3 separate regions of the Homo sapiens genome follow, and all the other regions are reported to be linked to region 1. Evidence: microRNA targets listed by miRTarBase, many of them from high-throughput screens and not tested one by one. Region 1 holds a microRNA gene; each other region holds the end of a gene's coding sequence.
The links. Region 1 holds the annotated microRNA hsa-miR-539-5p (GGAGAAAUUAUCCUUGGUGUGU, at 1,276-1,297, opposite strand). A microRNA usually pairs through its seed, bases 2 to 8, with sites in the 3' UTR of a target mRNA and lowers its output. Matches are read on the target gene's strand: a 7mer-m8 pairs with bases 2 to 8, a 7mer-A1 pairs with bases 2 to 7 and ends in A, and an 8mer does both.

Region 1 (5,136 bases):
ACTCTAGCCAACTATTCATATGCACACGCACACAAACACACACACACACACACACACACCCCAGAGGTGCTGTCGACCACAACGTCTTATTCCATGAGAGTCTGTCTAAGATGGGGTGGTTCCCAAGGAAGGCACGAAGCCATGCCACGTCCACCAAGAATAATCCAAATACCCAACAGGCAGCTGCTTAGGAGCTGCCAAAAAGTAGTAATAGTAACAGGAAATGTACGGAGTTTTTACTAATGTTTGCATTCCCTACAGGAAGTGTTTCATACTCAGAATGAAGGCTACAGATAGGAGAGGCTGGACCCAGGTTCCCCGGTCCACCATCTACCTAGAGAGAGGCTTGACCCCGGCATCTCTCCAAGGAATTCCTCGTGGCTAAGATTTAATAACAAGAAGAGAAAGAGAGATGAAATAATTGTGAACATCTTCCAATAAAAAGATATGGCACCAAGCCCCTAAATGGCATCTCCACCCCAAAGCTAGCATTTGTCCAAGGAAATCACACTGGTGGCTTGCATTCTGAGATCACTGGATTCATCATTATAAATCATCAACACAGTCACACTCCATGGTGGGGCAGGCACCAATGTCCCCTCACTGAAGTCAGCACTGTGCTTTCAAAAACTTCTGAAGCAAATTTGGATACTAAAACAATGGTTGTCCGATATTAATCATCATAAATATAGAGACCATACTACGGACAGCCATTCTTTAAGCACCAAAGAACTGTGCCATCAAGAAGAGCTGGGCATCTTCTCCAAAGTTGGTGTCTCTTCCAGAAAGTTCTTCTCAGGTAGTCCAAACAATGAGGATTAGCAGGTCAGCTTCACACATTGAGAGTCAAGCCCATGCCTGGGGGTCAGTCACACTCTTGGGCAGGGGAAGGGGGTCTGGCCCCAATGATCGGTCCCTAAGGTTTGCTTCATGTCCAAGAAGTGCCTCCAAGAAGCAGGATTTGATAAGTAGCTTGAATGCTGCGTCACCCACAACACACACCCATGGCCAATGCAAATCCCTGATAGCACCAAGGAGTCCCGTGGCCCCCTGCCAAGCGTGGCCCCGCCTCCAGGGTTCTGAGGTTAGGGCACAAGTGTCCCCACCACAAACCAACTGCATGCGCCCTCATCCCCACCCAGGCGTGAGCCCCTGGGAAGGGCTGATGCGTGCATCCCTTTACAGAACTTGTCATGGCGTCCAGGAAGTCTGCCGAGGCAAGATTTGATACTCAAAAAGAAATTGTCCTTGTATGATTCATCATAAATAAAGCGAACACACCAAGGATAATTTCTCCTCAAGTATGAAACAGCAGCACGGACCACCACCTCCAGGTCTTTGGCTCAAGGTTAGATGGTGACTGCTTCGTGGCAAACCCAGTCACACACTCGCTCATGCACACACACCACGCACACACAGGCATGCACAATGCATGCACCAAGTTTGACCTCTCTTTAAGCACCAGGGAAGCAAGATGCCATAGAATCCTCACTCAGCTTGGCATCCTCGCTCAAGACTCCTTCAAAGCGTAGATAGTGGCCGAGGTCAAGAACCCAGGGACTGTCTCTCTTAAGTGGAGCAAATGTTCTCGGCACCCCTGCTGACCCCCACTGCATGTGGCATTCTGTATCAAAAGCCACTGTGTGAATGGCTTAGCTGCCAAGCATCAAGAGCATCACTAGCCCCCATTGTAAACACCGTGTATGCTCTGGGCTTCCTAGTCCATTCCATACCCGATGAAGGACTTGACTTCCATGTTTTGACACTGTTCCAAAAACCCATGGAGAGATTTTAGTCATAAAACCACCACCACCACCACCACCACCACCACCAATGATAGTTTCACAGCACACAAGGGTCCTGGCTACCACCTACGAAGTGCCGACCACGGGGCTCTGCTCTGAGCCGTGTACAAGTCTTAACTCGTTCAGCCCCAGCAGCCCCAAGAAATGGACGCCAATGTGATTCCCCTTTGACATGTGAGACAATGGGCACAGCACGATGAGATCCTTGCCCAAGGTTGGACGGTTAGTAAATGTCAGAGGTGGGATCCAAACACAGGAAATCGAGCTCCAGAGTCTGCGCTCTTGATACTGAAAAAGTGGATGACCCTGTACGATTCGACATGAGCAAAACGAACAGGACAGGGATAACCACTCTCCAAGTACCAAAGGTTAGCACGGAAAAGAAAGCCACTGCCTTGGGTGGACTTGGTACGTCTTCAAGGCGCGGTCCTGGGGATGAATTAGATGCTGAGGGTTAGTGGACCGGGTCACATACCCCAAGCAGAACATGCACACTCACGGACCGAGTAACAGCAGGGACCACAAAGCCACTACCCCACACGAGCGCCACCCCAGCCATCGGCCCGGGCTGATGACTTCCCGCTCAGGAAGCAGGGACCCAGACCACACACATCGTGCATGCTTTTGGCCCCGCCCACACTGCACCAGGAGAGGGGATGTCCCAGAGGCCACTGCCTTCCCTAAAGTCATCCAGGTGCCCGTGAAGTCCTCTCTGTGAAGTGGGGACCCGTGAACGATTTGCCACACACAAAACGGATACACACGGTCATGCACACACATACCGCATCCCTTGCTGAGTGTGGACTGGGTCCAAGACAAGGTTTGATACTCACAGAGAGCTTGCCCTTGTATATTCCATGTCAATAAACCGAATATACAAAGGGCAACCTCGCTTTAAGTACCAAACAATAGCACTGGGCAGGTTCCTCACTATCATTCACGGGGCCGGCCTCCTCTCCCGGGGTTCATCCTGGCGGGGGAGGGGGTGGGAGATGCGGGATCAGCAGACCAGGTGGCAAACACCACCTGCCAGCTGTGTGCCCATAGGTCAGCTCTCCATCCCAAAGGGGCCAGGAAGGGGCAGACGCCAGTGCCCCTTCACCAGAATCAGCCTCTTTTCCAGGCATCACTCCAGATTAGAACTTGTTCCTGAAAAGGAGATCCACCCCACGGGCCTTCCTGGGCACACGCAGAGCTCAGCTTCTCACTTTCTATAGGAATTCCCTGGGGTGGGACCACCATCTCCTTCCCAGTGTGGGCACCTCTCCAGGAAGTTTTCCTAAGGATGCACTCAGCACCGAGGTCCCAGGCACTGGATGAATTTACACCTTAGACAAAGCAAAGGCCCTGTGGTCACCATCCCTTCATCCATCTCACAGAGCCGTTGACACCAGTGTCATTCTCCATGCCAGCCCTTGCCCCACCCCTGCCAGAGGCTGGCATCGTGGCCATGAAGCCATGCTAAGAAAGAGCACAGGGTCAACAGTAGTAAACCCCACGTACCCCCAAGTAACTGAGGAAGCAGACCCACAGCCCATTCCCCACAGTGGTCTCTCCTTCAAGAAGGGGAGAGGAGCGGGAGCCGCCTGGTCCAGGTGGCAGGTTATGTGACTCATTACCCAGGCGTGGTGCTCACCTCTCTTCAGCTGGACGTTCGCTTTCCTTGGGCTGAGGATGCTGCGAATGTCCTTCCTGAAGCTGGCTTCGGGTCCAGATGACCCCCATGGCAGTCGGGGTGTAAAAAGCCGGCAGTCACACGGCCCAAGGAGTGTCTCCACAAACACAGAACAAGAGTCCCATTCTCAGGCAGCCATCCTAGGTGTGAGCAGAAAGCCAGCAGTCAGAGACGGGGCACAGACATCGAGGCAGAAGCAGGCGCCCTCTGACCTCCCACATGCACGCACCTGGTGCGGGGCTGACAGCTCCCACGGCTCATCCCCAGCGCTGCCTTCATGGGCAATCACAAATGACAAATAGAAGCAAACCATTCTTACAGATTCAGCCTGGGGACTGCGAGCTGGATCATGAACACCCAAGCATCAAAAAAAAAAAGCGCTGATGAGCACACCTCAGCCCCTTCCCCAAGGTCAATACCACCTCCAGGAAGCCCTCCTGGGGCTGGCCTACCAGGCTCGAAAACAGCATAGACAGAGCCAGTGCTCCGTGGTCCACCATCACTGCTGTCTGTGTTCCCCTTGAAATGATCCAACATCCAGGTCCCCCTTCTAAGGCTGATGCTGGGAACAGGAAGCCTTCTGTGTATGACTTGGTACCAAGAAGAGGCAGATCAATGTGTGATTTATCCTTAAAAAAGCAAACCACCATTAAACTTGGAGCACACAAAAAGGTCCCTCCTCTCCCACTGCTTCCAGGGAGTCCACAGGAAGAACCAGCATAGAGGGCGAAGGCAGAACCCAGGGGCAGCGTCACAGCCAACCTCACGTTCCCGGACATGGAAGCCAGGCCATACCTGAGAGGGGCTGACATCCGAGGCTTTGTCCTGGAGACAAGCAGGGTATGAGTGTCTTCTCCGACAGTTTGATACGCAAATGAGAGTCTCCCCCTGTATATTCGCCATTAATCAAGTGAACATACAAAGGGTATCCTCTCTTTAAGTACCAAAGGGTGGCTCAAAGAGCAGGTGAGGACCATGCCGGGTCTTTGCCGGAGTGGACATCTCCTCCTGCGAGGCCTGAGACCAAGGGGGAGGGGCCCGGTGACAAGCCTCATCTGGCTGACCCTGGAGCTGGGCCTGCACCTTGCACATTGTGGCCTGGCCCCGAAAGGTGGCACATCCAGGACTCCCTGCAGGCGAGACTGGCTTCTAAACAAGGGAACAGGTAGGCATGACTATCAGTGTGCTCAGCATGCATGGGTGAACCTGCTTCAAATACCCACAAGCTACATGGACAATGGAACCATCACCTTTCTCCAAAGGGGCACAGGGTGTGAGGGCTCAGCCCGGCAAGACATGGAGTTATCAGAGAAGAAGGCATCTGCAGGCATTCTCAGAGCTGGAGAGCGCTGAGACAATGTCTCTCCTCTGAGGCTGGTTGTCCTAGAGATGACCAGATCCAAGAATGTGTCACCTGTACCTACCTCGAAACAAACAAAAAGAGGGCCCCAGCGTCAGACTCTAGCGACAAAGGAGTCCTGAAGACCAGACACACCTGCCCAAGGCACACTCAGGTGCAATCACTGGACAATGTGCTCCGAGGACTGGCCATTGGAGTCCAGCGACAGTCCCAGAGGGCACAGGCAGGCTCAGGGAGCTCCACCAGTAACTTGCCTTAGAACAACCTGACATCCATGTGCTTCCCTCAAGGCTGAC
Region 2 (5,000 bases), not on the chromosome of region 1:
AAGGTCTCATTTCTTTCCCTAGAAAACAGTCCGGGATAAAGAACTGGAGGGCCTGCAGGTAAAAATCCAACGGCTGGAGAAGCTGTGCCGGGCACTGCAGACAGAGCGCAATGACCTGAACAAGAGGGTACAGGACCTGAGTGCTGGTGGCCAGGGCTCCCTCACTGACAGTGGCCCTGAGAGGAGGCCAGAGGGGCCTGGGGCTCAAGCACCCAGCTCCCCCAGGGTCACAGAAGCGCCTTGCTACCCAGGAGCACCGAGCACAGAAGCATCAGGCCAGACTGGGCCTCAAGAGCCCACCTCCGCCAGGGCCTAGAGAGCCTGGTGTTGGGTCATGCTGGGAAGGGAGCGGCAGCCCAGCCAGGCCTGGCCCATAAAAGGCTCCCATGCTGAGCAGCCCATTGCTGAAGCCAGGATGTTCTGACCTGGCTGGCATCTGGCACTTGCAATTTTGGATTTTGTGGGTCAGTTTTACGTACATAGGGCATTTTGCAAGGCCTTGCAAATGCATTTATACCTGTAAGTGTACAGTGGGCTTGCATTGGGGATGGGGGTGTGTACAGATGAAGTCAGTGGCTTGTCTGTGAGCTGAAGAGTCTTGAGAGGGGCTGTCATCTGTAGCTGCCATCACAGTGAGTTGGCAGAAGTGACTTGAGCATTTCTCTGTCTGATTTGAGGCTCAGACCCCTCCCTGCCCTTCAGAGCTCAAGACAAGTAATACACCCAGGTCTTGACTGCATTTGTCTTGTGAGCAGGGCTTGCTTGGTCAGCTCAGGCCCTCCTAGCTGCTCTGGAGGCTCCTTTGATTCTCTAGACCTGGAAAAGGTGTCCCTAGGCAGAGCCCTGGCAGGGCGCTCAGAGCTGGGGATTTCCTGCCTGGAACAAGGGACCTGGAGAATGTTTTTGCGTGGGATGATGTGCTGGTCAGGAGCCCCTTGGGCATCGCTTCCCCTGCCCTTTGGTAGTGCCAGGACCAGGCCAATGATGCTTCTCAGTAGCCTTATCATTCACAGGTGCCTCTCTAGCCTGCACAAATGATTGACAAGAGATCACCCAAAGGATTATTTCTGAAGGTGTTTTTTTCTTTATTTCTTTTTCTTTTTTTTTTTTTTTCTTTTTCTTTTTTTTTTGCACATGACAGTGTTTGTATTGAGGACCTTCCAAGGAAGAGGGATGCTGTAGCAGTGGTGCCTGGGTGCCTGGCCTCCAGTGTCCCACCTCCTTCACCACCCCACTTGGCTCCTTTGCCATCTTGATGCTGAGGTTTCCTGTTTGGTGAGATCAGGTTGTTTGTGGTAAAAGAAAGGAAAGGGCTTCTGATGGCTTTGCCACAAGCTTACCTGTGGGTTTCAGTCCTGAGAGGCCACCACCAGTTCCCATCAGCACTGTCTCCATGCAGCAGTTGCTGGGTCCCATGTCCAGCTGCCTCTTTGGCTTCATGGGTTTTTCTGCTTCCTGCCCCCACCCCCACATGTGCAATCCTCAAGATTTGTCCTGATTCTATTTCCTGGCACCTCCCTGCCTGTCCTTGGGGATTCTACTTCTTCCTGTGTGGGAGCCCATAGCTGTTGTCTAACAGGTAAGAAATGAAATTGAACTATTGACTGGGCCCCAGAAATCCATAAAATGGCTGCAGACAGTTGTTTCTGTGTCCTGTTCTACCCCCACTCCAGTACATAACTACTATGTACTGTGTAGAGCCATTCTATATGCTGAATGTTCTGCTGTTGCAAACTTGCCAGGGTATTAGCCAGTGTTTGTGCCAAGCAGTTTTCTGGGACAACAGAATGACTCAGACCAAGATGGATAGGATGGTTAGGGCTTTGCTTCTTGCTGTTTTTCTTTGAAGCTAGTTCATTGTCCTGCAGGTCCCTTCATCTTCCATACCTAGCCCACTCTTTTAGCCCTTACCTTAAATCTCTCAGATAAGTTGGTTCACAAAGAATGTTAAGTACTGAATCATGTGTGACTGAGACCAGAGATGGCAAATGAATGGCACACCATTTCTCCTTCTCCTGCCCCAGGGCAGGTACCACTGATCTGCATCAGAGTTGCCTGCTATTCTCTGGTGTATCCTTCACATCTAGGTGCCCTCAAGCAGCTGTGTGAGTGTTGAGATCTCTGCCATCTCTGGCTGAGATACTGCTGTCCTGTGAAGTGTTTCCCATGACCTTTTTCTTCCCCTTTGAATCCCTCTGTCTGGAGTAGTCCTTGCCTCTTCCTGCTCCAGTAGGGCCTTTTCCCTACCCCAGCCCCTGTGCCAGGCTAAGCTGGTACAAGAGCTGCCAACCTCACAGAGTGTTTGCTAGGCGAGAGAGGTGCAGGGAAGAGGCAGAGGTATGCACCTTCCCCCTTGAAGAGAGGGGAAAGGCCTACAGTGGCCCACATAATTGCCTGACTCACACTTCAGCTACCTCTTAATGCCTGTGGAGGGACTGGAGCTGCTGGATCCCAGTGTGGTGGTGTAGGAGGCCACAGTGAGCAGGTGGCCCCAGCTGGGTTTCCCAGGTCAGGAATGTGGGCCCCAGGCAAGGTGCAGCCTTTGCTCACAGCTCCATCCATGTCTAGACCTTCAGGCCAGTCTGCAGATGAGGTTCCCTACCTTTTTCTTCTCTTCATTGACCAAATCAACCAATCACTACAGCTGCTCTGCTTCTGCTTTCCAAAGTAGCCCAGGTCCTGGGCCAGATGCAGGGGAGGTGCCTATCCATGAGTGAAGGCCAGTGTCTTCCTCACCTGGGTGGGTCCCACACTTGTGACCTCAGTTTTAGGACCAAGATCTGTGTTGGTTTCTTAGATTGCTAGCTTTTCCTCCAGGGGACCACAGCAGGTGAAGCTCAAGAGCGCATGGCTCTGCTAATAGTAAATTGTTTTCAGGGCCTTGTCCAGCTGAGAGCTTCATGTCCACCAGATTCTGAGAGGTGTCAGCAGCACTTTTTTTTTTTATTTGTTGTTTGTTTTCCATGAGGTTATCGGACCATGGGCTGAGCTCAGGCACTTTCTGTAGGAGACTGTTATTTCTGTAAAGATGGTTATTTAACCCTCCTCCACCCCATCACGGTGGCCCTGAGGGCTGACCCGGAGGCCAGTGGAGCTGCCTGGTGTCCACGGGGGAGGGCCAAGGCCTGCTGAGCTGATTCTCCAGCTGCTGCCCCAGCCTTTCCGCCTTGCACAGCACAGAGGTGGTCACCCCAGGGACAGCCAGGCACCTGCTCCTCTTGCCCTTCCTGGGGGAAGGGAGCTGCCTTCTGTCCCTGTAACTGCTTTCCTTATGGCCCAGCCCGGCCACTCAGACTTGTTTGAAGCTGCACTGGCAGCTTTTTTGTCTCCTTTGGGTATTCACAACAGCCAGGGACTTGATTTTGATGTATTTTAAACCACATTAAATAAAGAGTCTGTTGCCTTACTTGTTTCTCTCCTGACCTGTGTATTCCTTTGTTTCTGGATCTGATCCATTCAGCCCCTTCCATCATCACTGACTTGTTCAGGTCTGCTGCAGAGCGCCCATGGTGGTTCCCTGGTATCTTACATATTCCACAGTGTCTTTGAGCAGTCGCCACAGCCTCAGGATGCTGGCATATTCACTTGAGCTGCCTGAGTGGAGCCCTTGGCAAAGTTGGCAAGACCCTTGCCTCAGAGAGGATCACACACACACAAAAAAGTTTTCCCTGACCTGGGGGCTCACAGGCTAGTGAAGGGAAAAGGTACTTTTAGCTATAGACAGGTCAATGGTGCTGAGAGCAGAGAGGAGGCCCCTGCCCCCTTCAGCAAGGTGAGGGGGTGATACCTGGAATGGCCTTCTGAACCACAGGGCAGGTAGAAGATGAACGTCATTTAGTGATTAAATGGTACAGCTGGGAAGCAGGTCCATGGGACTGGGAGAGGGGGTGAGGCTGGGCCCAGAGTCTGGGTACCAGGTTAAGGAATGTGGGCTAGATCCAGAGGGCAGGGGGGGCAACTGAAGGTGTTTCAATAGGAAATTGATAGGCTCCAGCAGTAAGGCAAAAGGCATGGAGCCAGGCATAGGCCATTTGAGGCCCAGGTTAAGAGGGGTGGACACTCATCACTGCTATTTGGGTCTGAGCTGTGGGTAGGCTCCTATAGCCCTGGCCTGCCCAAGGGAATTCACAGGGGCCTCTAATTGTATGCATTCCTTAAGGAGAGCACATTCTCTGTTCAGTTTTTACACCCCCCATTTACCCACCTCAAGCATGGGACTCCTATATGGGAGACATGCTGCTGGTGGCCTCACCCAGCACCCTGTTCTCTCTGGGTCCTGGGTTGGTCAGGCACAAAGGATGATATGTGCTGAATGCCCAGGAAATGGCAGAGACAACCCACCTGCCCTTCCCTCCAGGCCTCCACAAATAGATGTGCCCACAATGACTGTGACAGTCCCAGCAGAGCCTCTGACCCTTCTAGCTGGGTCCTGATACATGTTTTCCATGCTGGCCATGTTATTTCTAGTCGCAGATCCTCTGGAGGGTGTGGGGGGGGTGCCGCCCCAACTCTTGGAGATTCCAAGCAAAGCAGCTCTGAGAATAATGAGGTTTCTGACCCCCCAGTGAAGCAGCTGAGGATGGGAACCACAGGGGTGCTCCCTCTGTCAGCAGCATTACCACTGTCTACTCTAGCAGCTCCGGTGGGGAAGGAGAGGGATTTCTGTTGTCCCCAGTCTGGGCCCCTGGTTATTGAAAAAGTTCGGAATTACTCTTTACCCTTGTGGAGTGTTCTGAGTGTTGGAAGTACCCAGGAAGAAGCCCTGAGCAGGTGCCCTCAGGAGCAGTGCCCATGGCTCCCCACATCAGCCAAGAGGCCCAACCCCAGGAAGCCACTCCTGCCCGGGGATGGGGAAGGTGGGCTGGGTGGCTGTGTGCACTGCCCTGGGCCAGCTCACTTGAGCCTGCTGAGCCGCCTGGCCAAACATGAGCCTCTCTCCTGTTGTATCAGATGCTGTTCTGGGGACCTGCGCCAGGAGCCTCTGCCAGGGCTTTAAATAG
Region 3 (5,000 bases), not on the chromosome of region 1:
CAGTTGGTGAAACTTCCTTCTCGGTGCCCCTTCACCCCACCAAGAGACCGGCATCAAATCCACCACCTATCAGCAACCAGGCAACAAAAGGTAACTTTCACACATGTATAGAGAAAGTATATTTCTGACTGTATGTGATGGTCATCATGGCAGTTGAGGTGTAGTCTCTGCACTCAAGTTGTTCAACATCTCATGCATAGTAGACAGCATAGTGATGGCAGTATACACAGGCTACTACAGGAACAAAGAAAAAGGATACCCAAGTCAGCTCTGAGGAGCGAGAGACAGATCCTAAAATCAGATGTTCAGGGGTTAGCCAGGCTGAATTGGGGAAAGTGACAGAATAGACAGCTTTGAAGGCAGAGGATTGAGCCTGAGGCAGGGCACAAAGGGGAGAAGCAGGATATGGGGTATTTGTGAAATGGTAGTCAGTTTTGTTGCCTAAGCATAGTGTAATGCAGGATAGGGAAGAGCCCAGGCTGAAGAGCAGGCAGACCAGACTGTGGGAAGCCTTGTGAGTCTTGTGAGGGCCTAGTGTGATGAGGTGGAAGGGTTTTAAACAGCGGAAGTTCAGAAGTATGACTCTGTCCATGCAGAACACCTAAGGGCTTACTTCCCATAAAGAAAGCTCTCCCCGTAGTCTTCCAGGTGCTCTCTTAAGTGTACTTTTCATCATTACTTACACTCCCTTTTGGTGTTTTATAGGTAAACGTCCAAAAAAAGGAATGGCAACAGCCAAACAACGTCTTGGGAAGATCCTTAAGTTGAACAGAAATGGCCATGCACGTTTCTTTGTGTGACAGAGCTGCTGTTGCAGCCATTCTTCCCTTTGGAGACCAGTCTAGGGGTGCAGGAGCCTGGAGCTTCCGCTGTCCCCCTGCCTGGAGCAGTTTGTGTGTATAGTAAGAACACTGCCCGAAGAACAGAATGAACCTGATGCTGCATTTTCACTGTGCCACACCCACTCAGCAATAACCATTTTGGACCTGGTGGGGGAGAGGAAGAAGGAGGGTAGAACCTTAAAAAGAGACCTTGAACTGGAAAGGGTCTCTTGTCAGGGCTTGAATTTTATTTTGTTGTTGGTAGTGTCTTGATGTATTTTCAGTGGTAGGGTAAAGAATTATCAATAATTTATTTAACAGATTTTTTTTTAAAGTTAACAGCTTTTAAATTCTTTTTTTAAAGCTATTTATTTGGAAGATTTCTGGAGAAATATCTCACTAATTTAGATGTAAGAATGTGAAGGTTTTTAAATTATTTTTGATAGTGTGTGTGTTACATGTGGGGAAGGGCCACAGTAACAGTAACTAGTCTGGACTCTTAAATTTGATATTCAGGTTAAAGTCTTAAACAGGGATTTGATGCATTAATTATTTTAAATTAAGATGTATATGAAAATCATTTTATTTTATATATTTCATGTGTTTTTTATAAGCTATTAGCTTCGCTTTTGCTAACATCCAAGGTGCATACTGTTATCCAGGTTGATTACCTTATATCCCACCTTCCCTCTGCACTCCCCATCATTTTGTGATGACCCAGTAAGACTCTTCTCTTTGCAGGGAAACACTTTCGTAGCCAATGTGTAAGAACTCCATGAAAGATCCCTCATTTCTCATTTCGTTTGACATTGTGATTTTCTTCTCAACATTAAAAAAAATAGGCTTTTGCATTTTCATTTCTGCTGATGATATCTGGGTCCCAAAGAGAGCAGCTTTAATATATTTTTCCTACTTGTGGGAAAAGTATTATAAGTTTGGTTAAATTGTCATGTTTATAGTTTTTCCAAGTACATTTGTAACTACAGCAGGCCTTCTTCGTACTGCTGCTGTTGGACAACAGGACTGGCACCTGCTGCAGAGGTTATACCTTATGATACTTTTATGCTCCATACCTGATTTGTTGGGAAATGTTATTTAGGATATTCAAATCTGCATCATAAGCCGTAATATAATAGGATTAATACTACATTAAGTTGTATAGAAGCAAGCATGTTGGAATAGATCTTTTGTGTGTATTTACTTTTTTTATTTCTTAATTTTCTAAAGAATTACTTAAGATATGGATTTGGAGTAAAATGGGTGCTTTTGGCAGTTTCTTCCATCTATCCTAACCTGACCAGTACATATTGAGGTTAAGTATCTGGTTAAACTTTAAGGTATTCATTTATCTCCTTTATGTATGATTTTTACTAAATGCCAGTTTTCATTTGCTTATAGTAGCTTCTATTTTCCCTTTTTTCCATCCATGGCATAAAAATAAGTGATTTCTGGGGGTGGGGCAGAAATGTTCCCAAGTCTGACAATAGAGCATTTTACAAATTCCTACAAAGAAAATATAGGCAAATAGATAAAATTTATTTTTATGGAGAAGAAATATGGCCATATTATGGATTTGTCTTTTTTTTACTCAGCAAGATAGCAGGACTTACCCTTCTCTATTAAGTATCACTTGAATTGCTAAGAAGAAAAAAGTCTGTACCATCATCTTTCATGGTTGCATTCAAATGTATATTTTCAAAGAGAAATACTTCTTGTGTCCCCATTCCAAAATGTCATGGGATAAATATGAAATAGTTTATGAAGTAGCCTTTCTGGTTCAGAGTGACTGGACCAAAGTCTGAATCTTATCTGGGTATCAGGAAAAAGAATTTTTATGGAAATCCTTAGTGTCTATAAACAACCCGTGTAAACCCTGTCTACACTATGCCAAAACCAGTGGAAAGATGGGTAGAGTCATCTTATCTCAGGATGTCAAAAATCTGGGTTTGACTGATTCCCCTACCTTCCCACACAGTATATTCTTGTGATTTTTGCTTTTCTGTAGATCCTGAGTCGGTGTTACAATAGTCATGTTTTTATTTTGGGTTAAGAAATACGAGGTGTAAGAGCTATAATTTCCTTTTCGTGTTATATCATGATCTGGGTTTTCTTTTTTCCTTTACGTTTTTCACAGCTCTTGAGTATTTTCTATTTTTTTCTTTAGTCACAAAAATTAAAATTAAACTTTATTTTTATGAATTAAAATGAAATTTAATTTATTTTTATGAATTAAAATTGTGGCCAGTATCCACTGTGTCCTTAGGCTGAGAAGTACTAATTTGGAGTAGCCCGTGTGTGGAATTCTAAAGTGAAGGTACTGTGGATTCATTTTTAGTAGTTTTAGCCCCTTAATAAGTGGCTAAGTTAGAAAACTTTCAGCGAGGTAATAGAACCACTTGAATAGAATCCATGTGTCTTTTTCTGAATTGGTGAAAATTCGGCCACTGATCCAGTGACTCCTGGTCAAACGTCTTATAACATTACTGGCCATAATGCATCCCTTTATCTCATGGAAATGGCTGAACTTTGTGGTAGCTGCTGCGAGTACCTGGGCTTAACAGTAATAGAGAACCTCATTTATACCATACAGACACAGCAACTTAGGAAGACAGCACTGATAGCATTTAGCTAGTTGTAACCAAATACAAATATGTAAAATTGAGAATTATGATTAACATATGCAACTTTAGTAATAGGAATAGATGATAATTTTCCTGTATTGTTTCAAATAAGTGACTGTTCAGCTGGGATCCATTGGATTATAATTTACAATGTCACATAATATTATGCTTTTCAATATTGATGAGTGATGTAAACAATATAAAGTTGGCAGTTTGTAGTAGTTCAGTATCCTAGAAATACATTGAACTTCATAAGTATCAGTTCATTTTTAAGCATACAGAATTGAAGATTCTGACTGAAATCATAAACTCAGAGGAAACAAGCCCATCTTTATCACTAATTACTTAGCTTGAATACTTTTCTATTTTTAAATAATCCTAATTATTGCCTTTTCAATTATAGTCTACTGTATTTATTTATATGGGATCAACAGGTATTTATCAAACATCTACTGTGTGCCCAGCACTACCTAGTACTGTTGGGGAACATCAATTTGCAGTTGTGGTCTCTGCCCTTGAAGGTATCTTCTCCAGGAAATTAGCAGTATTATTTTCACTTCTAAGCAAACATGAGCAAAAGAGGACCTGTTCATTAAAAAACATGCTGACTTTTTTAGTTTCAACTGAGATATGCCACTGTAGAAGTGAAAGTAATTTCACAATTAAAGAAATGCTTCAACTTGGTAATTAATATGGTCATACAGGGACTTGGTGTAGCATGCAAGGAAGCAGAAGACCTGGGCTTTTGTCGAAGTTCTGCCATTTAGGTATCAGCTGTGTAACCTTGAATAAGTCACTTAACTCTTTCTCTTAGTTTTCTCATTTGTAAATTTGGATTAAAGTGTTTATTATGATAATCAATTAAGAAAATCTCTTAACACTTCATACATACAGAGAACTTATCATTAAGTTAAAACTGGCAATTAATGCACCTTTATATATATTTTTAAATGAAAACTAATACTATTCATGATGTTTATTTTATATCAAATATATGCCCAGGGCATGCTACTTTAAAAATCCGAGGAATCTCCAACAAGGTGCTGGATTAAAATCAGATTTCGTGCTTGAAGTGGAAGAAAAATGAAGTTGTTTATGGATAAGAGAGTGAGAATGTGTATCCTCAAGTACGTTAAGATGATTTAACTGAAAGATGGCTTTAGGTTTTTCTTGAAGAATTAGGAAAGTACCATCCCCACAGATTCAGCATACTCTTCAGGTACTAGATAAAGGTGAAGGAAGTCATGGAATTAAAATGACTTAGCAACTCCCCAGGGAACTTGTGGGGAGAATGAGGTGGTTAGAAAGGTGAGAATGCACAAAGACAGCTCTGGGTTGGGTACCAACAGTTTGCTTGGTAGAAAGAAACCAGTGTAGGAAAGGAGACGCCACCAGACATCTTCAACAGACAAGATTCTTTCTGCCTTTTTCAAAAGATGCTCTCTGCAGCAGTAAGACTATAGATAGAGTTGATTGGAATATCATGTGACCCAGTATGCTACTGCTAGGCATAATTATCAAAAATTCATTTTTCTCATTAAATATTGTTAATTGCTCG

Region 2: the mRNA of TXLNA is a reported target of hsa-miR-539-5p. Seed matches in the 3' UTR shown: 7mer-m8 at 658-664 and 7mer-m8 at 2,003-2,009.
Region 3: miRTarBase lists KDM7A as a target of hsa-miR-539-5p. Seed matches in the 3' UTR shown: 8mer at 1,611-1,618, 7mer-A1 at 4,258-4,264 and 7mer-A1 at 4,973-4,979.

What each region holds. Positions count from the first base shown.
Region 1 is chr14:101,043,490-101,048,625 of GRCh38, reverse strand. MIR539 (microRNA 539) reads right to left here and starts at 1,305; the gene lies at 1,228-1,305. It overlaps MIR1185-2 (microRNA 1185-2), which reads right to left and starts at 4,428; the gene lies at 4,343-4,428. MIR381HG (MIR381 host gene) reads right to left here and starts at 3,469. Exons shown (of 3, transcript NR_104192.1): 1 at 3,442-3,469. It overlaps MIR381 (microRNA 381), which reads right to left and starts at 2,706; the gene lies at 2,632-2,706. It also overlaps MIR487B and MIR889. RefSeq lists enhancers at 1,860-2,360, 2,361-2,861.
Region 2 is chr1:32,194,880-32,199,879 of GRCh38, forward strand. It overlaps TXLNA (taxilin alpha), which reads left to right. Exons shown (of 11, transcript NM_175852.4): 11 at 23-3,406. The coding sequence ends at 316. It also overlaps a transcript of CCDC28B not described here. Among named protein-coding and RNA genes, the nearest start is that of CCDC28B, 3.2 kb to the right of the region's middle. RefSeq lists enhancers at 4,375-4,933, 4,934-5,000.
Region 3 is chr7:140,086,894-140,091,893 of GRCh38, reverse strand. KDM7A (lysine demethylase 7A) reads left to right here. Exons shown (of 20, transcript NM_030647.2): 19 at 1-90; 20 at 706-5,000. The coding sequence ends at 800. Among named protein-coding and RNA genes, the nearest start is that of PARP12, 26 kb to the right of the region's middle.